Regions from separate parts of the Homo sapiens genome. Here region 1 is linked to region 2. The links come from fine-mapping of genetic effects on gene expression. A gene starts in region 2. The other region holds a variant in brackets. All regions are shown on one strand. Distances are between the middles of the regions. Region 1 overlaps DRC1 (dynein regulatory complex subunit 1). Region 2 holds the start of SELENOI (selenoprotein I).

Region 1 (10,613 bases), 78 kb after region 2:
TATCAGTAGAACTCTGAGGTGTGTCTGAATTCAAACTAGGACTTTTAAATTGTCATAAAGGTATTGTGATAGGAGGATATATATAAAATATAGTTTAAATATATATTATATATTAATAATATACAATATATTATAAATTATATATAATTTATATATAATATATATTATATATAAATTATATATAATTTATATAATATATAAATTATATATAATATAAATTATATATAATTTATATAATATATAAATTATATATTATATAAATTAAATATAATTTATATTATATATAAATTATATTTAATTTATATAATATATAAATTATATTTAATTTATATATAATATAAATTATATTTTTATATATTATGTATAATTTATATATTTATACATATATACATTATAATATATTGTATAGTATATATAATATATAGTATATATAAAGCATATTATATATTATATATACAACATTATATATTATATATATTATATTATATATATATTTTGAGACAGAGTCTCACTCTGTCACCTAGGCTGGAGTACAGTTGCATGATCTCAGCTCACTGCAACCTCCACCTCCTGGGTTCACGCGATTCCCCTGCCTCAGCCTCCCAAGTAGCTGGGACTATAGGTGTGCACCACCATGCCTGGCTAAGTTTTATATTTTTAGTAGAGACGGGGTTTCACCATGTTGTTCAGGCTGGTCTTGAACTCCTGGCCTCAGGTGAACCGCCCGTGTTGGCCTCCCAAATTGCTGGGATTACAGGTGTGAGCCACCATGCCCGGCTGAATGTTTTATTTAACAATTTTTACATGATACTATAATTTAAAAATATTTAGACATATGGTATGTGGACCTCCATTTAAATGCTTTCCCTGGATCTCATAAAGGTGAGGGGCATTTTGGTCTGTTGGTGGCTGACATTTGGATTTTTAATTTTACTTTGAGTCTTAAATACTTGATTCAGAAATTTCTGGAACTCCAGTAATTGGTTAGCACATGGTACTTATACAGAACTCTCTGATGTTCACATTGAGTAGAAACTAGAAAATAACCCCAAACTGCAGGAAAGCCATTACTTCCTTATGCACGTAAAACCATTTTGTACAAGTGATAAAACTGCAGGCATTAACAAAAAATCTAGAGTGCCCTGGATATCTGGGTTAAAGCTCTGTTCTGTATTCAATGAAACTACATTTCAAATTTTTCATATAATAGTGAGATCAAGTGAAGTCTCTGGTCATTTCTGTGACTCCTTGGTGTAGAAGTTTTATAGGTTCCTAGTTTAAAAATTATTTGAGAGTTGGAGAGTTCATAAGTTCCAAAAAGACTTGAAAAAACTTAGGCATAACCTAAGGATACTCGAACTTTTTGTTGAGAGGATTTATCATCTTGAATAACATCACAACAAGGCTAGGAGTGAAGATACTGGAGATGGAATTTACGAAGAGGGATTTAGAAGGATGGCACCAATTACAAAATCCCTGAGCCCATTAAGGAGACAGCAGTGCAGCCAGCTACAATCTTTTCCTGCCTTAGAATCCATGTAATGAAAGACTCCACATATCATTAGCTGCAGCAGGACAGAAGCTTGTTTCTCTGTCTCAACAGTTCCGAGTATAAGTAGTCCAGGGCTCACATGGATGGGGTCTGCTTGATGATGGGACCTCAGCTCCCTCTGCCATTGCTTGAGTTGCCTTTATCTGCTCATCACCTTTTACTTGAGCCCCACATGCCAGCCTGGGAGAAGGGGCAGAAGTGGGGCAGCAGAGGGTACACCTTTTCCCCTTAAAGTCACAATTCAGAAGTGGCACACATTACTTCTCCTGTGTCACTGATCAGATAGTATTCTAGGTGCAAGGGAGGCTGGGAAAGGTACCTATTTTGGGAAGCCACATCCCAGCAAAAATTTGAGTGTTCTGTTACTAAAAGGAGAGGGAGAAATGGACATGGGAGCACAGCTGTCATTACCTGCCTCACTGTCATTATCTGCCTCACTGTCATTATCTGCCTCACTGTCATTACCTGCCTCACCTCCCCAACTGAGGTTCTTCGAAAGGCTCCCGGCAGTGTCAGTCACTTGGAGATCTGCTGGGGACAAGGCTGAGATGAATGTACAATATCTGCTGGTATAAAAGTTGGCTGGTGCCTTCTCTACAGTGAATAAATAAAGTACATTGAGAACTGCAGAGTGCTTTTTTTAAAATTTTTTATTTTGCCCAGGATTGGACAAAAACTTACCACAGTAGGATACTAATGATGCCCTTCTAGCCAAACGCAGTGGCTTTTCTCCAGGCCTCATCATATTATGACTGGATACTGGACTTTTCTTTCTCTTTTTCTTTTTTCTTTCTTTTTCTTCTTCTTTTTTTTTTTTTCTGAGATAGGGTCTCACTTTGTTGCTCAGGCTGGAGTGTAGCGGCGTGACCTTGGCTCACTGTAACTTCTGCCTCCCAGGTTCAAATGATTCTCCTGCCTCAGCCTGCTGAGTAGCTGGGATTACAGGCACCCGCCACCATGCCTGGCTAATTTTTGAATTTTTAGTAGAGATGGGGTTTCACCATGTTGGCCAAGCTGGTCTCGAACTCCTGACCTCAAATGCTCCACCCACCTTGGCCTCCCAAAGTGCTGGGACTACAGGCATGAGCCACTGTGCCTGGCCAAGAACTGCAGAGTGCTTTTAAATTGTGAGCTGTAAAATCACATCACAAATGTCCTGATAGAAAAGGGTTGCTACACAGAGGCTACTCTTAAAAATCTTAAGGTAGTTGCTGCTTCCTGCTTGAATGGATAGAAGCTGCGGACAGTTGTGCAAAAATGTTTCAGACTTTATATATTATTTACAAAGTGTTCTAGCTTTGTAAATTCTTATATCTCTCTTTTTAGAAATTGGCTAAACTTCTGCTCTGTGGCACCGAGTTGGTGACAAATATCCAGGTGGCTATAGATATCAGAGAGATTCACAGGAGAGTCGAAGAAGAGGAGATAAAGCGTCAAAGGTAAGGACTGTGCTACTCTGCAGCTGGTGGACATGAAGGTAATCTCCATGGGTCCGGCAGTTCTCCCGAATTGTTGGAGGGTGACTTTGTCCACCTTAGACAATTCCCTTCCTGCCCTTATAACTTCTCCCTCCCTCCCTCCTCTTCTTTCTCTCTCTTTTTTTTTTTTTTTTTTTTGAGACAGAGTTTCGCTCTTGTTGCCCAGGCTGGAGTGCAATGACGTGATCTCGGCTCACCGCAACCTCCACCTCCCAGGTTCAAGTGATTCTCCTGCCTCAGCCTCCTGAGTAGCTGGGATTACAGGCATGCGCCACCAAGCCAGGCTAATTTTGTATTTTTAGTAGAGACGGGGTTTCACCATGTTGGCCAGGCTGGTCTCGAACTACTGACCTCACGTGATCCACCCGCCTTGGCCTCCCAAAGTGTTGGAATTACAGGCGTGAGCCACCGCGCCCGGCTATCTCATCTCTTTTCTTTCCTCCCCTCCTCAAGCACTACATTGCTGATACGTGCCAAGCTGTGTGTATACAAAAGGAGTGAAACACGGCCTCTGTTTGTGGTATTCACAGTCTAGTCAAGAGACACATGGAAACACCCATAATTCGTGGTAAAATAGATAATGTGTAAAGGGTTGTAGTAACACACACAAGGAGGCCTTTAATTCTATCTGCAGAGATTACAGAAAACTTCCCAGGCAAGGTGACGTTGAGCTGGGCTGTGAGGGATGAATAGGAATTTGAGGAATTGAAGAGTAGGCATTTTAGGCAGAGGGAACACTTGAGCAGAGGTGTGAGATCACATGATGTGCTTGGGAATGGCATGATAGCGAAGGATGTATGCGGGTAATGGAAGAAAAGAGAAGAGGCTAAGAAGGTCAACTGGGCAGTCCTGGGTTTCAATTGGTGAGAATGACCAGACCCACGAATACCTCAGTGTTATGTGTAAAGGTGGCAGCATTATTAAAGAATATTGAGGGCTCCATGCATAGAAGGATGGAGGTTCACAGGGATCACAAGAACCTGCGTCAAGTCCTCAGCTCCAGTCCTCAGGAGGCAGGCTGCCCTGCACGCCCATGTCCCAGGTCTCAGGCTGTCCAGCAGGGAGGCATAAGCGGCTTAGAAGAATTAAACTTCTTTGGTTTGCACACAGAAGTAGACTGATAGCAGGTCCTCATTTAAGCTTTGGATTGTTCTTCAATTAATTTCTTAAACAATTAGAAGAACAACCACTTGGCCAGGCACGGGGTGGCCCACGCATGTAATCCCAGCACTTTGGGAGGCCGAGGAAGGCGGATTGCTTGAGGTCAGGAGTTCAAGACCAGCTTGGCCAACATGGTGAAACTCCGTCTCTACTAAGAACACAAAAAATTAGCTGGGTGTGGTGGCGCGTGCACACCTGTAGTCCCAGTACTCAGGAGGCCGAGGCAGGAGGATCACTTGAGCCCAGGAGGTGGACGTTGTAGTGAGCCAAGAGTGTGCCACTGGACTCCAGCCTAGGCAATGGGAGTGAAACCTAGTCTTTAAAAAAAAAAAAAAAAAAGGCAACCACTTGACCATTTTGTCTCATCATATACACACAGGGGTCGATTTTAACAATATTTTTAGTTGTTCAGCATAAGCAGTTCCCTCTTTAGCAACTTTAGCAGCCCTACCAGTAAACGTGGGTGACTTTTATTCTCGAAACTTCCCACTGCCTGTATGGGCTGTGCCAGGAATGGAGTCGGCAGATTCCCAGCAGGGTCAGCTTGTGAAAGGCAGGGAAGGTCATGCAAGGAGTTAGGCCTTGTCCTCTAGCCACAGAGGAATGCTGAAGGTCCCAGGTGGCAGGTTACAAGGTCAGTGTGCTGCGGAAAGATGACCTGACAGCTCTTTCTCATTTCTTGAAATAAAAAAGTCAATTAAATTAAAAAAGTGTCCTAGCTTGGAAGGTGGGGTGGGTGGGGGATGGGACAGGAAGAGGGGATTGCAGGATGTTTAAGCTGTGACTTCGGTTCCTCAGGGGGTTTGTTTGGAGGTGCTCTCATAGGATTAGTCTGTTACAAGGAGCAGAGAGTCTCTGGCAGATATCTTAGCCACTGTTCCCAGAGGGGCCCCAGCTCAGCTCTCCTGCCTTCCTGCCACCTCGCCCCAGCCTCGGTGTGCTCTATCACGGAGGTTCTTTGGAATTTATGGAAAGGCTGTCCCTATTTTCCATCACTCATTGGTGGAGTTTCCATATTTGTACATTCCACTAGTCATTTATTGGTAACTTGGGAGAGGAGTAGCCAGACACTTGAGGTCATGTTGCTAATATAAAATTGATAATTTAAGCACCATGTGTTAAGTGACTCCCATGCTGAGCACCTGTGCTGTGTGCAGCATCTTATTTCATCCTGACAACAGCCAGCCACTTGAAGGTAGATACTTTTCATCCA[C/T]GCCATTTTACAGAAGAGAAAAGTGAGGCTTGAGGGAGTTATGCAACTTGTCCGAAAGGTTGACAGTCAGTTAGGAGCCAAGTCAGGACTTGAACATAAGCTCTGTGACTCCAGAGACCCAGTGTTTAACTGTTGTGTGTTATCATCTTACTCAGAAGCAGGTGACCAATCGATCTTGGTGTGTGTGCGTGTGCACGCGTGTGTATGTGTGTGTGTGTGTAGCCTTAATGTTGATCTGTTTTTGCTATGTGTCATTTTCTTTACTTGGCCTAAGTTATTTACAGTCAAGCGTTAAACGAAAAGATTTCTCAGCATTGAGTTTGATTTTGGGCGGGTGTGTTTGGGCAGTGCCTAGTACCTGGGTCTTATATTCTAGAGATTCTAGAGAACGTACCTGCTCTACTGGAAGGCAGCATCTGGAGCTGGGTTGGCATGGCTGGCATGTATGTATTTGCAGGATTGAGAAGCTGGAGAATGAAGTTAAGACCAGCCAGGACAAATTCGATGAAATCACCTCAAAGTGGGAAGAGGGCAAGCAGAAGAGAATTCCCCAAGAGCTGTGGGAAATGCTCAATACCCAACAGCTGCACTGTGCTGGACTCTTAGAAGATAAGAATAAACTCATCAGCGAGTTACAGCAGGCAAGAGGCCCGGGCCCTCCAGCCCAGCCACAGGGGATCTGCCTGGGATTTAGCTGGGTTACTGGTTTGCTTTTCCTGAATGGAAAAATGTAGAAACCTTTTACTTCATTATTTAGAATGCTGTACAAGTCATGTTATAAACTTTTTTCCATGATGGTAAGAAACACATAGCATTAAATTTGCCATCATAACCATTTTAAAGTGTATAGTTCATGGGCTGGATGAGGTGGTTCACTCCCATAATCCCAGCATTCTGGGAGGCCGAGGCAGGCGGATAACTTGAGGTCAGGAGTTTGAGACCAGCCTGGCCAACATGGTGAAACCCCATCTCTACTAAAAATATAAAAATTAGCCGGGCATGGTGGCACATACCTGTAATCTCAGCTACTCAGGAGGCTGAGGCAGGAGGGTCGCCTTAACATGGGAGACAAAGGTTGCAGTGAGCCGAGATCGCACCACTGCACTCCAGCCTGGGTGACAGAGGGAGTGAGACTCTGTCTCAAAACAAAAACCAAAAAACTGTATAGTTCAGTCATGTTAAGTATACAGCATTCAGATGCAATAGATCTCTAAGAACTTTTTCATCTTGCAGCATGGAAATTCTATGCCCCTTAGACACCAATTCCCTCTTCCACTTCCCCCTAGACCTTGGTAATCACCTTTCTACTTTCTGTTTCTGTGATTTTGACTACTCTATTAGATACTTCCTGTGAGTGAAATCATACAGCATTTGTCCTTTTGTGACTAGCATATTTGGCTTAGTATAGATGGACTTCGTTGTAGCACGTGACAGGACTGCCTTCCTTTTTAAGGCTGCGTAGTATTTCATTGCATATATATACCACATCTTGTTTTATACATTCTCCTGTGAATGGACATTTGGGTTGGATTTCACGTTTTGGCTTTTGTGAGTAATGCTGCTATGAACATGGGTATACACGTATCTCTTTGAGATACTTCTTTGAATTATTTGGATGTATACTTAAAAGCAGGATGGCTGGGTCATATGGTAATTCTATTTTTAATTTTCTTAGGAACCTCCATACTGTTTTTTATAATGATTGCACCATTTTACATTCCCACCAACAGTACACAAGGGTTCTAACTTCTCTGTATTCTCACTAACACTTACATCCTGTTTTTTTGATAGCTTCCGTGTTGATGGTGTGAGGCGATATCTCATTATGGTTTGGATTTGCATTTCCGTAACGATTAGAGATGTTGTGCATGTTTTTCATGTGTTTATTGGTCACTTGTATATCATCTTTGGAGAAATGTCTATTTAAATCCTTTGCTTATTTTTAAATTGGGTTGTTTTTGAGTTATAGAAGTTCTTTATGTATTTTGGACATTAACCCCTTATCAGATATATGATTTTCAATTATGATTTCCTATTCCGTATATTGCCTTCTTAGTCTTGATTTTTTTTTTGATGTGCAAACATTTTTGAGTTTGGTGCAGCCCCGTTTGTCTATTTTTGATTTTGCTGCCTGGGATTTTGGTGTGATATCCAAGAAATTATGGCCAAATCCAATGTGCAGAAAGCTTGTCCTCTATATTTTCTTCTAGGAGTTTAATAGTTTTAGGTCTTTAATCGATTTTGAGTTATTTTTGTATATGGTATAAGGTAAGGACCCAACTTCATTCTTTTGCCTGTGAATATCCAGTTTTCTCAACATCATTTGTTGAAGAGACTATCCTTTCTCCACTGTATAGTCTTGTCAAAAGTCATTTGACCATAGATGCAGGGGTTTATGTATCATTCATTTATCATTTTGACCCTTGTCAAAGCCATTTGGTCATATATGTAGGGGTTTATTTCTGGGCTCTCTAGTTCCCTTGGTCTATATATCTATTTTTATGTCAGTACAACATTCTTTAATTCCTGTTGCTCTTTGCAGTTTTGTTTTTGTTTATTTTTTTTTTTTTTGAGACTGAGTCTTGCTCTGTCGCCCAGGCTGGAGTGCAGTGGTTTGATCTCGGCTCACTGCAACCTCCGTCTCTAGGGTTAGAGCAATTCTTCTGCCTCAGCCTCCCGAGAAGCTGAGACTACAGGCATGCACCACCATGCCTGGCTAATTTTTGCATTTTTAGTAGAGATGGAGTTTCACAATTTTGGCCAGGCTAGTCTCGAACTCCTGACCTCAGGTGACCCACCTACCTCAGCCTCCCAAAATGCTGGGATTACAGATAGGAGCCACTGCGCCCAGCCTGTAGTATGTTTTGAAACCAGGAAATGTGGGGCCTCCAACTTTGTTCTTTTCTCAAGACTATTTTGGCAATTTGGAGTCTCTTGAGATTCTGAATTTTACAAATTTTAGGATGGTTTTCCTATTTCCACAAAAAATGATGTTGGGATTTTGTTAAGGACTGCACTGAATCTATAGATCACTTTGTATAGTATGGACATTTTTAACAATATTGAGTCATCCAGTTCATAAGCACAGGATATCTTCCATTTGTTTATATCTTCTCTGATTTCTTTTAGTAATGTTTTACAGTTTTCAGTGTACAAGGCTTTTGCCTACTTTGTTAAGTTTATTCCTAAGTATTTCATTCTTTTTGGTGCTATAGTAAATGGATTATTTTCTTAATTTCTATTTTGGATTGGTCATTATTTGCATATAAGAATGCAACTGATTTAAAATTTTTTAAACATTTAATTTAATTTAATTTTTTTGAGACAGAGTCTCGCTCTGTCACCCAGGCTGGAGTGCAGTAGACTGATCTTGGCTCACTGCAACCTCCACCTCCTGGGCTCAAGTGATCCTCCTGCCTCAGCCTCCCAAGTAGCTGGGATTAAAGCGCACATCACCATGCCCAGCTAATTTTTGTGTTTTTAGTAGAGATGGGATTTCACCACGTTGCCAAGTCTGGTCTCAAACTCCTGACCTCAAATTACCCACCCACCTCCACCTTCCAAAGTGTTGGGATTACAGTTGTGAGCCACCGCACCTGAGCTTTTTTTTTAAATTTAAAATTAAAAAATTTTATGGGTAGGTGTATATATTTATGGGGTATATAAGATATTTTGATACAGCCATACAATGTGTGATAATCACATTGGGGTAAATGGGGTATCCATCACTTCAAGCATGTATCATTTCTTTGTGTTGCAAACATTCCAGTTATACTCTTTTAGTTATTTTAAAATGTACAATAAATCTAGCTGACCTTAGTCACGCTGTTATGCTGTCAAATACTAGATCTTATTCATTCTAACTATATTTTTGTGCCTATTAACCATCCCCATTCCTCCCTGACCCTCCACACTACCCTTCTCAGTCTCTGCTAACTATCATTCTACTTTCTATCTCCACGAGTTCAATTGTTTTAATTTTTAGCTCCCACAAATGAGTGAGAACATGCAAAGTTTGAATTTTTGTGCCTGGCTTATTTCATTTAACGTAATGCCTTTCAATTCCATCCACGTCGTTGCAAATGACAGGATCTCATTCTCTTTTATGGCTGAATAGTACTCCCTTGTGTATAGGTACCACATTTGCTTTATCCATTCATCTGCTGATGGACACTTAGGTTGATTCCAATTCTTGGCTATTGTGAATAGTGTGATTTTTGAATTTTGATTTTGTGTCCTGCAACTTTGCTGAATTTAAGTTCTAACAGGTTTTCCTGTGTGTGAAATCTTTAGTTTTTCTGCATATAAGATCATGTCATCTGTGAACAAAGATAATTTTAACTCTTCCAATTTTGATGTCTTTTCAAGGGATAAACTTTTAACTAGAAGTAAAAGCTTTGTCATAATTGTAGAATTATTAGCTATCTAATAGAAATACAGTCATGCATCACTTAATGATGGGGATATATTCTGAGAAATGCATTGTTAGGTGATTTCATTGTTGTGAGAACATCATAACATGTGCTTACACAAACCTAGATGGTATAACCTACTACACACCTAGGGTATATGATATAACTAATTGCTCCTAGGCTACAAACCTGTCCGGAATGCTACTGTACTGAATACTGTAAGCAGTTGTAACGCAGTGCTAAGTATTTGTGTATCTAAACAGAAAAGGCACAGTAAAAATACCATATTATGGCCGGGCACGGTGGCTCACGCCTGTAATCCCAGCACTTTGGGAGGCCGAGGCAGGTGGATCACGAGGTCAGGATATCGAGACCATCCTGGCTAACACGGTGAAACCCTGTCTCTACTAAAAATACAAAAAATTAGCCAGGCATAGTGATGGGCGCCTGTAGTCCCAGCTACCCGGGAGGCTGGGGCAGGAAAATGGCGTGAACCCGGGAGGTGGAGCTTGCAGTGGGCCGAGATCGAGCCACTACACTCCAGCCTGGGCAACAGAGCAAGACTCTGTCTCAAAAAAAAAAAATACCGTATTATAATCCTATGGGACCACTGTCGTATATGTGGTCCATCATGGACTGAAATGTTGCTATGCAGCACATGACCGTAGTATTTTTACAGCAAATGCTGTTCCAGAGTTTAGTCCTTAGTTAAGGAATGCAACTTAGTCTGCAGTAGATATGTTCTCGTGTTGGAACCTGGACATTAATTGCTCAGCTAGGACACTCTAGGCTTTCTG
Region 2 (10,613 bases):
TTTAAACCTCTGCTTTCCCTTCAAAAATTGAAACGATTCCTTTGGATAGAAATCTGGCCACTTTCCCTTTACCAGTTTTGGTTAATCAAATCATTTTCTTTCTACCAGACTTCGCTCTTGTTAGACTCTGCAAGCAGTGAGCATCCCGACCTGTGTTCAATTGCAATTTTACATATTGTTTCCTATTTGTATATCTTGTTTTCTAGACTTATAGACAACAGTGTCTGATTTAAAAAAAAATAGAGCCAGCTTCCATTAGAGTTCTGGTCAAACAGGCCACATAGCCTTAGTTATACATGTCAAGGAAAAAGTGAAAGTCTTAGGTAGTAGAGCTCTATGTTGGCCACTGTTGCCTTAACCCCAGTATTTCCAGAATTCCTATAGGAAAAATGAATTATATGAATTATAACAATGTTCTTTACTCTCTTGTTCCACTTAGGATTTTTTTTTTCTCCTAGTGACTTTCTCTTTCACCAAAACCGAATGACCATTGATCCAATAATCTCAAAGTTTCATGAAGGTGAAAATAATCCTCATTCAAAAATGAAGGCCCTTGCACAGCTGTGTGTTCAAACTGAAATTAAAAAAGAACAGTGGTTACATTTGGTTGCATCTGCATACCTGACATTAGATGAGATTAACATTGCCAAACAAAAATAAAGAGAAAGGATCGCAGAGGTGATGCCCCTACGGCTACTCATCTGAATGATTTGTTCTCTCTTTACCTACAGTTCTGCTTCCGTTTTAGTGGAGTAATAAAGGGGAGGAGGATGTGTGTGTGGGAGAGGTATTAATTCTTCCTCCATTCATAGAATACAGATGCTGGTTCACTACCAGAACTTCAAGAATGATGAAAATAAGACTTTGCCCAGTGTAAAACTTTGCCTGCAATCAGTTTTTAAAATAATGCTTCTTTTATTTAACAGACATGCTCATGAGTAATGGTTATAACAAAGAAACAATCACTTGCCTTCAAAAAAAAAAGAATGGCAAATATGTAGATGGTCTAAATTACTAGACCTGTGATTTTACTCTTGCCTCATATCACACTGGGTCCCTCTGAATGTTTAAACTGTCTCTAGACTTCGAATGACTACTGACACTACTGGTTTGGTAGGTTAAGACCACAAAAATGGCCATAAAACCACTGAGAAGACCGGGCAAGGTGGCTCACGCCTGTAATCCCAGCACTTTGTGTGGCCAAGGTGGGTGGATCACCTGAGGTCAGGAGTTTGAGACCAGCCTGGCCAACATAGTGAAACCCCATCTCTACTAAAAATACAAAAATTAGCCAGGCATGGTGGCGGGCGCCTGTAGTCCCAGCTACTCAGAGTCTGAGGCAGGAGAATCGCTTGAACCCAGGAGGCAGAGGTTGCGGTTAGCCAAGATCGCGCCACTGCACTCCAGCCTGGGCAACAGAATGAGGCTCCATCTTGAGAAACAAACAAACACCACTGAGAAGCTAGTTGAGAATAAGTCACAAAATAGCAGAGACACCATCCTCCCCCAGCAACATAGGAAGTAGGAGGTATTAGCTTACGCTGAATCTCATTATATTGCGTAGACTTTTTCTGTGACAAAAATATGACTGATGACCCACTCATACAGTTCCCTTTACATTCTTACCTAAGAGGATTATGATTGAAAAATGTAAAATATAGCAAAAAACAGGCAAACAAAACCCCACTTGAGAAGATTTACTATAATAACTGGGGAGTTCCTTTTTGTTTTTTTTGGTAGAGACAGGGTCTCCCTATGTTGCCCAGGCTGGTCTTGAATTCCTGGGCTCAAGGGACCCTCCTTTCTCAGCCTTTCAGCATGCTGGAATTTGATTAAAAACTGACTTGTGAGCTGGGCGCGGTGGCTCACACCTGTAATCCCAGCGCTTTGGGAGGCTGAGGCGGGCAGATCACGAGGTCAGGAGATCGAGACCATCCTGGCCAACACGGTGAAACCCCGTCTCTACTAAAAATACAAAAAATTAGCCGGGCATGGTGGCAGGTGCCTGTAGTCCCAGCTACTTGGGAGGCTGAGGCAGGAGAATGGCGTGAACCCGGGAGGCGGAGATTGCAGTGAGCTGATATTGCGCCACTGCACTCCAGCCTAGGCGACAGAGCAAGACTCCATCTCAAAAAAAAAACAACTGACTTGTGATTTTTTTTTTTTAATATCTTACCATCAACTTGTAGAAGCATAGTGTAGTGGAAAATTATTCAACTAAAAGTCTGATGACCTGTGTTCCTCTTTCCTGGGTGACTTTTGGTAAGATATATTACTATTCTATTGTTCCACTCTATACAATTGGAACAGCCATCAGGCCCATGGCTCAGGATTGTTAGTCATGTGAAACTGCTTTGAGAACCAGAGTTTATGTGTATAAGGCATTCATTTTTATTTTAAAATGAGAACTAAATCAATACCTTTTTACAAACTTCTTTGGAAGACCCTGCCCATTTTTATGGCTTCAGTAACTTATATTGGAGTTATTAACTACATTAGTCCTTAATTAACCTCCAATATTTTTTGGCTGTCTCCATTTATCTGATACACTCTTATTCAGACTAAATAAAACAGGCACTCCAGGAACTTAAAACACTTTATTTTGGTTATATTATAAAAATAAAAATATTGTTTCTAGCACGAATTGATATTTTCTATGATTATTATTCTGGAAGGCAAAATGCCTGATCTTGAGTGTACAAGATGTAGAAGAAATAAACTTCAATGGATGAAGAGGCAGACATGGGAAACAAAGCAATAATAAACTACACTCAGGAATGTGGCGTGTAGAGCACAGATGGGAATAACAAGGCCAATCTAAAGCAGTCCGGGGCAGCTGGGCTGCCTTAGGGAAAAATGCCTCCTGGAATAAAATTTGGGAACGAGGAAACAGAAAGGTGACTTAGTTCCAAAGGCAAATTTGTTTCCATGACATTTTTCTCTTCCCACGTGACCATGCCTGCCGGGTTTAGGATTCACAGAATTCTGCGAAAATACAGTCATGCATCACTTAATGACAGGATATGCTCTGATAGTAAATACAAAAGCCAGTAAGACAGTTAGTTATTATCAAGTATTCAGTAGTGTACATAATTATATGTGCTATACTTTTAGATGACTGGCAGCGCGGTAGGTTTGTTTACACTAGCATTACCACGAACGTGAGTAATGCCTTGTGTTACAACATTTTGACAGCTAGGATGTCACTAGATGACAGAAATTTTTCAGCTCCACTATAATCTTAAGGGACCACATGTGGTCCCTCATTGACGGAAACATGGTTATATGGAGCATGACTAATATCTTAAATTTGTATGAATTTAATTGAACAGACTGGGGCCATATCATTGTAGGTAAGACAAGATTTCCCAGATGAGATGACTTAATCTCAGAGAAGTTATATGATATACAGTTTCACTGAATTTCAGAGATGAATAGGATCGTAGTACCTAATAGGTTCTAATGGATCGAATTAGATCTTAGGATCAAATGATCTTTTTTTTTTTTATTTTTTTGAGACAGAGCCTCGCTGTGTCACCCAGACTGGAGTGCAGTGGCGCGATCTCGGCTCACTGCAAGCTCCGCCTCCCGGGTTCACACCATTCTCCTGCCTCAGCCTTCCGAGTAGCTGGGACTACAGGTACCCGCCACCACGCCCGGCTAATTTTGTTTTTATATTTTTAGTAGAGACGGGGTTTCACCGTGTTAGCCAGGATGGTCTCGATCTCCTGACCTCGTGATCCGCCCGACTCGGCCTTCCAAAGTGCTGGGATTATAGGCGTGAGCCACGGCGCCCGGCCCAAATACCCTCTTTTTGAAAAAGAGTACTGGGGCTAAGTGAAGTAAGTTGTCTGAGATTACACAGCCAGTAACATGTCAAAGTATAAACCAATTTCTGGGTTATGCTTCAGCTTATAAATTATCAGATGAATTTATAATTGATTCAAACTTGTTACAACCTTATGCAGAGAAGCAGCAAATTGTAACTGCTTTCACAAAATTAAAAGTTACTGTTTTAAAAAGTGCTTTTAAAGAAAATATCAGAGGTAGAAAACAATTTTAAGAATCAATCATGTCATTTTGAGTTTGCTTATATCTGAACTGATAAACAATAAGTGCAGTTTATAAACTATTATTAGCTTGCACTGAAGTCACATTTTATGGCTTTCCACAATTAACTAAGTTTTACAAGTATGAAGGGTTTTTTTGGTTTTGTTTTTGAGACGGAGTCTTGCTCTGTCGCCCAGGCTGGAGCGCAGTGACACAATCTCGGTTCACCGTAACCCCACCTCCCAGGCTCAAGCGATTCTCCTGCCTCAATAACCTGAGTAGCTGGGACTACAGGCGCGTGCCACCACACCCGGTTAGTTTTTGTATTTTTAGTTGAGACGAGGTTTCACCATATTGTCCAGGCTGGTCTCAAACTCCTGATCGCAAGTAATCCCTCCACCTCAGGCTCCCAAAGTGTAGGGATTACAAGCGTGAGCCACCGCGCCTGGCCGAGACTCTCATTTCTAATGTTCTTCTCAAAACTGGTACTTCACAGCATATCAAAGAGATCTTTGCTCATTCATTCAATAAAATACGTTGATCATGTATTATTTGCAAGCCCCCTGGGTTATGGAACATGGGGAAAATTAAGATGTATAAGATGCAAATACTGCCCTCGAGGGCAAGTGTGATAAAGGACACTGAAGTTTATTGGTTGGCGGGCGCCCATTCTTCAAAAAATGCAAAAAATTTAGCCGGGTGTGGTGGTGTGCGCCTGTAGTTCTAGCTACTTGGGAGACGGAAGCAAGATCACCTGAGCCAGGGGAGGTCGAGGCTGCAGTGAGCCGTGATCACGTCACTGCATTCCAGCCTGGGTGAGTCAGTCCCTGTCTCAGGGGGCGGGGAGAAGCTTATTATCTACCATATACCAGGTATAAGATTATCTATTACTTTCTAAGAATCATGCTTTAGGAGGGGAGATTAGACATGTAGTAATAATACTGTGTTTGGCATATCTCGGGTCCCCAATAAATAGTTGTTAAACGAATGAACATAAAAGTATCTCAAAATAATCGCCCTTATTTCAGAGACCCAGAGAGACTGAAAGGCTCCCTGAAGTAGTGGTTTCCCATAACACAGAACTCATTTCATGTTGGGTCGATCATTTCCGAGCTTCGTAACTAAGTGACTCTGGGCAGGCTGCCTAATCTGAAAAAGGGGATAATGCCTTTCACTTCAGTGTTGTTATGGGGTTGATAATGTATGTGAAGTTCTCCCCACAGAAGGCGCTCAATAAAAAGCAGCAACTATTATAAAATTTTATTAGTAGATACTCACTAGCCATTGATCTAGTGTTTTTTGTTTGTTTGTTTGTTTTACAATTAACTGGGCTCCAGTTATGTAAAACACCTCTTGCAAACGCATTTAAGGACTCGTCGAGACTGAGAGATCACTGCTTTTATCTGGTCGGGAGACACCAGCAATCTTAATTTGGAACGGTTTGATAGAGCGGAGTGCGATGAGGCGGTCCAAGGTTCCTAAGCAACATAGACCTGAGGGGCTTGTCTCCAATGTCCTTTCACCTGTCTTTCAAGTCCCTCTGCTGACCGCACAAAGACTCCCGTGGCCCCGGCAGCAGCTCGGCCTTCTCTACATCTAACCACGTTTACTAAATTTCTACGGCACGCAGCGCACCGCACCAGGAGCTGGGAGCGGCTCGCGGTACAGACCTCCTTCCTCTTTTACTTCGCTGCAGCGGGAGAACTAAGTCCTCTTACCTGAGGCACTGCTGAACTGGTTCGCAAGCAGTCACTCTACCCCCAAGACTAAAACGGTATACCCCAGATCACCACGCAAGTGCGGATACCACAGAAATCCCACCTTCCCCCGGGACCGGGAGCAAAGCCCGCTGGGAAATTGACCTTTCACCCCCTCTCTTGCCTTACCTCAGCTCACCAATTTTGACGCTAGCAAATGAAGCGACGAAGAGAGCTGGAAGGCGGGACTTAGTGTTGCCTGATCCACGCCGATTGGACAACAGCAGTGTCGGGGGACGGGCCGCTCGAGCGGGCTAGCAACCCCCCCTCGATGGGCGGGGAGAAGCGTGGGCTGCGCTTGCGCACTGAGAGGCGGCCGAAGGGGCCGAGGCGGCTACGCGTGCGCGGTGGGCGGAGCGCGGCTCTCCTACCTTCTCGGGCAGCCCAGTCTTTGCCATCCTTGCCCAGCCGGTGTGGTGCTTGTGTGTCACAGCCTTGTAGCCGGGAGTCGCTGCCGAGTGGGCGCTCAGTTTTCGGGTCGTCATGGCTGGCTACGAATACGTGAGCCCGGAGCAGCTGGCTGGCTTTGATAAGTACAAGGTACCGCGGGCCGGCGGATGCCCCTCTCCCTGCTCCCGGCCTCGCCCAGGCGGCTGAGGGGCCCGCGCGGCGCGGTCCGTGTCACCTTGTGCCGCGTGGCTCCGGGCGGGCTGGCGGGCGTTCCTCCGGAGGTCCTGCGGGTCCTGGGGATTGGGGGTCGGGGAGCGTGGGAGCATCCTAAGCCCGCCGCCCGTAGTCGGCACCCCCCGGGAGATTTCCTTTTCCTTAGGAGAGCGCTCAGTGATCATGGAGCGAGGGAATTCCCTTCCTATTTTTTTTAAACTTATTATTTTCGTAAGCCCCCGAAAGGATGGAGTTCCTTCTGTTGTGTCAATCGCCTTCATTTTAGTGAAGTTTCCACTCGCCTGTCATGCATACAACTTCGGAGGAGGAGATGATCGTTTGGCAGATGAGGCCCGGGAGGGGAGCGACTTGCCGATGCCATCCTGCTGATGTCTCCACTTCTGCTCCCGGCAGGGACTTCCTAAGCGGCAGCTTGTGGCGCTAGGGCCACCAGATGAAAGGGAGGTGCACAGGAAGGAGCTGTGGAGTGGAAAGAGCGCGGGCTTTCGAGCACATACAAACCTGATTACAAAAGTCAGATTTCTTTATTTCGTCTTGGGCACGTCATTTTAACCCCGCTCAGCCTCTCTTTTGTGTATGAAACTGAAAGTAATAGCTTCTGCTGTGCAAAATGATTAGAGGAATTTGTGAAGCGCTTGGCAACATACTAGGACCCCAGTAAATAAATGCGGGTGGTTAACTTTCCTCCAAATCTGGTTCCCATCCGCAGTTCCTTTACCAATGAATGACTCTAACCATCCAGTCGACCAAGCCTGAAATATGGGCTTTAACCCTTCATCCTTGTTGTTACCCGTTCATCTTCACATCTTAGCTTAAATATTGCTTCCTCAAAGAAGCCCTCCCTACGTGCCCCTTTCCCCCTTAAATGTGCGCTCTGTTCGTTTATGGAATTGCTGCTTTAGCGTGTCTCGCCATTAGAATATAATGCCCAACTCATTAGAGTTTTCTTGTGGACCATCATGGCTTAAGCACAGTGCTATGTGCATACTAGGCACCCAGTAAGCATTTGTGGAATGAATGAATAACTGAAAAAGTCATAATGGATTTTGTTTAACTCGAGTTAAAAAAAAAAAAAGCAAGGGTCCTTAGAAGGTCACATAGCATGTTTCTCTGCTTTCAAGCCGTATTGTGCCATACCATTCTGAACCGAGGTGATGACTTGTCTTAACATTTTAAGTGGAAAGAGGGTCCAGAGCCTTCTTGGTAACTCGGGCCAGTGCTTTTCAACTTTCATTTTAGAAGGCTGTTAACCCAGATACCTCCTGTTTTGCCTTAAGCTCTACTCCCCTTTTGTTGTCTGTTCTGCAGGGTAAATATTGACATATAAAACATTTTCTTCCTTACTAGGGTCTGACTTTCTAAGTGCCAATAAAATAGCTATTTCAATGGGAGCAGTGTTTATAATAGGAAATCTCCTTTTTCTTATAAAGAATCTTCCCTAGATTTATATTTTCAACTAAATAAGTGTCTTAATTTACTAGAAGTTTCGTGTAATTTTCTGTTCTGATCTTTCCCCCTTTTTTATTATATAAGTTCCTGTATCTGACAGCAGATGACTTCCTATCATCCTGGAAAACAAAGGTCGATTTAGCAAGCGTCCAATGTTCACTAAAATAGTTTGTTGATATCATTTTAGTTATAATGAGGCTTCCTTGGGGAAAAAAAAGCACACATTTATAACCTAAATATTCTTCTATTGCAATTACTCAATACTGCATTTATATTAAAATTATGAATCCAGTGGTATCCAAAGGAAAAATCCATGGGATCAGTTTTGCTTGAACACAAATCTCACAGATCTTTTTTTCTTATCGTTGCGTTCCCCTTATGTTGTCTTCAGATAGTAAGCGCTTTATAAATGCTTATTTTAAAAAGTCTTTTTTCCCCATAAATGGGTAAAGATTGAAAACACTCAAAAGATATTTTGTATTCCCTCATGTGATGCTTTATAAGAGGGATGTAAAGAAGAACTGACACTACAAAAGCAGTTGGTGGAAAAATTACTTTTGAAGTAGTTTAATTTATCTTCCCTAGAGGTATATCTGAGAGCTACAGTTGGAAACCTGACAGATATACAGAATAACTGCTGAAAGGGGTGCACACGGGGAGTGGAAATTAGGTTTCTGAAGCAGGAAACTATAAGACAATTGATTTTTGGTATGGAAGAGCGTGGGATGGATTCTGTGTTATGTATTGACACTTGCATTCGCTATTGTGTTACTTAACGCAATTGTATTAAACAGTTAGTTGACTATTAGTTGAATGTCTACTTTCTCTTTTAGGACGTGAGCTTTAAGAGGGCAGGCCCTATGGCTGACTTTTTTTTTTTTTTCTTTAATAACATGACTGAGGTCTAGCACAGTACCATGAACAGAGTAAGTGCTAAACAAATATTGAAGGAATGAGAATGTAAAAGAATCAACCATTTTGGAAGTATGGTTAAAAAAAAAAAAGGAGCTCTATGTCTGGATATTGAAAGGGTGCTTTTGTATTTTAAATGTGAAGATATCAGGTTTAACTGCCATTGTTCTCTGTTGCTTATTAACTAAGGTAACTTCAGAGAATTATACTGAAGGATTTCAGCCTTATTTTTGCCTCTACCCATCCTTTGTTTTGGACAGGCTTTTTTTTTTTTTTTTTTTTTTTTTTTTTTTTTTTGGAGATGGAGGTTTGCTCTTGTTGCCCAGGCTGGAGTGCAATGGCGCGATCTCAGCTCACTGAAACCTCCGCCTCCTGCGTTCAAGCGATTCTCCTGTCTCAGCCTCCCGAGTAGCTGGGATTACAGGCATGCACCACCTCACCTGGCTAACTTTGTATTTTTAGTAGCGGTGCATTTCTCCATGTTGGTCAGGCTGGTCTCGAACTCCCAACCTCAGGTGATCCGCCCTGGCCTCCCAGAGTGCTGAGATTACAGGCATGAGCCACCACACTTGTCTTTTTTTTTTTTTTTGAGATGGAGTTTTGCTTTTGTCGCCCAGGCTGGAGTGCAGTGGCGCGATCTCAGCTCACTGCAGCCTCCGCCTCCCGGGTTCAAGCAGTTCTCCTGCCTCAGCCTCCTGAGTAGCTGGGATTACAGGCGCCTGCCACCATGCCCGGCTAATTTTTGTATTTTTCTTTGAGACAGGGTTTCACATGTTGGCCAGGCTGGTCTCGAACTCCTGACCTCAGGTGATCCACCCACCTCGGCCTCCCAAAGTGTTGGGATTAAAGGCGTGAGCCACCGTGCCCAGCCCTTGGACAGGTCTTTATAGTTGAGGGATTTTTCCCCACTTATCTAAGGGTGAAACTGCAAGTTGGTTTTTTTTTTTTTTTTTTTGTCCTGGTTTGCTCATCATTTGGGAAGGCAAAGTTTTAATTGATAGTGTAGCAGCTACTTTGAAATTGTATCATTTTGCCTAAGGGAGGAAATATTCTGTGAAATATCTTGTTTGGTTGGTTCGAGAAAGTTATTTGTCTGGGCACAGTGGCTCATGCCTGTAATCCCAACACTTCCGGAGGCTGAGGTGGGAGGATGGCTTGAGGATAGAAGTTGGGCAACATAGTGAGACCTCATCTCCACAAAAAAAAAAAAAAAAAAAAAAAAAAATTAGCCAGGCATGGTAGCACGTGCCTATGGTCCTAGCTACTTGGGAGGCTGAAGTGGGAGGATCAGTTGAGTCTGGAAGTTGAGCTGCAGTGAGCTATGATTGTGCCACTGTTTTGCAGCCTGAGCAACAGAGAAAGACCCTGACTCAAAAAAAAAAAGTGTGTGTGTATAAATATATATATAGTTTCATGATGAACTGGTTTTTGATATTATGGTAATTAATTAACTTGGCTCTCAACAACAGCCTGATTATAGGAATCATGATAATTGTGAATTTATTAGTATTACAATTAGAGGTGGTAAAGAGAGATTGTGTTTGCATCTTAATGGTAATACTAAAGAACCAGAATCTGGCCTTTAACCTTACTAGTTCCTGAAAATTTCATAAAAAATTATTTTCATTCTTATCTTTTTTTAGAGACAGGGTCTTGCTTTGTCGCCCAGGCTGGAGTGCAGTGGTGCGATCATAGCTTACTGCAGCCTTGAATTCCTCAGGTGATCTTCCTCCCTTGGCCTCACAAAGTGCTGGGATTATAGGCAGGGGCCACCGTGCCTGGCCATCATACAGTTTGATTTTGTTTATTCAACAAGCATTT

The links. PIP is the estimated chance that this variant, and not a neighbour inherited with it, causes the effect. A credible set is the group of variants that fine-mapping cannot tell apart.
Region 1: its variant is the best candidate, but not a certain one, in a credible set for the expression of SELENOI in whole blood (INTERVAL, PIP 0.66).

The regions. Positions count from the first base shown.
Region 1 is chr2:26,418,410-26,429,022 of GRCh38, forward strand. DRC1 (dynein regulatory complex subunit 1) reads left to right here. Exons shown (of 17, transcript NM_145038.5): 3 at 2,879-2,991; 4 at 5,862-6,045. Among named protein-coding and RNA genes, the nearest start is that of DRC1, 22 kb to the left of the region's middle. The variant C/T (reference allele first, on the strand shown) is at 5,405.
Region 2 is chr2:26,339,943-26,350,555 of GRCh38, forward strand. It overlaps SELENOI (selenoprotein I), which reads left to right and starts at 6,201. Exons shown (of 10, transcript NM_033505.4): 1 at 6,201-6,347. The coding sequence starts at 6,291. It overlaps ADGRF3 (adhesion G protein-coupled receptor F3), which reads right to left and starts at 6,847. Exons shown (of 14, transcript NM_001321971.2): 1 at 6,179-6,847. The coding sequence starts at 6,292. RefSeq lists enhancers at 5,666-5,805, 6,126-6,893, 7,006-7,105 and silencers at 6,016-6,245, 6,296-6,355, 6,416-6,465.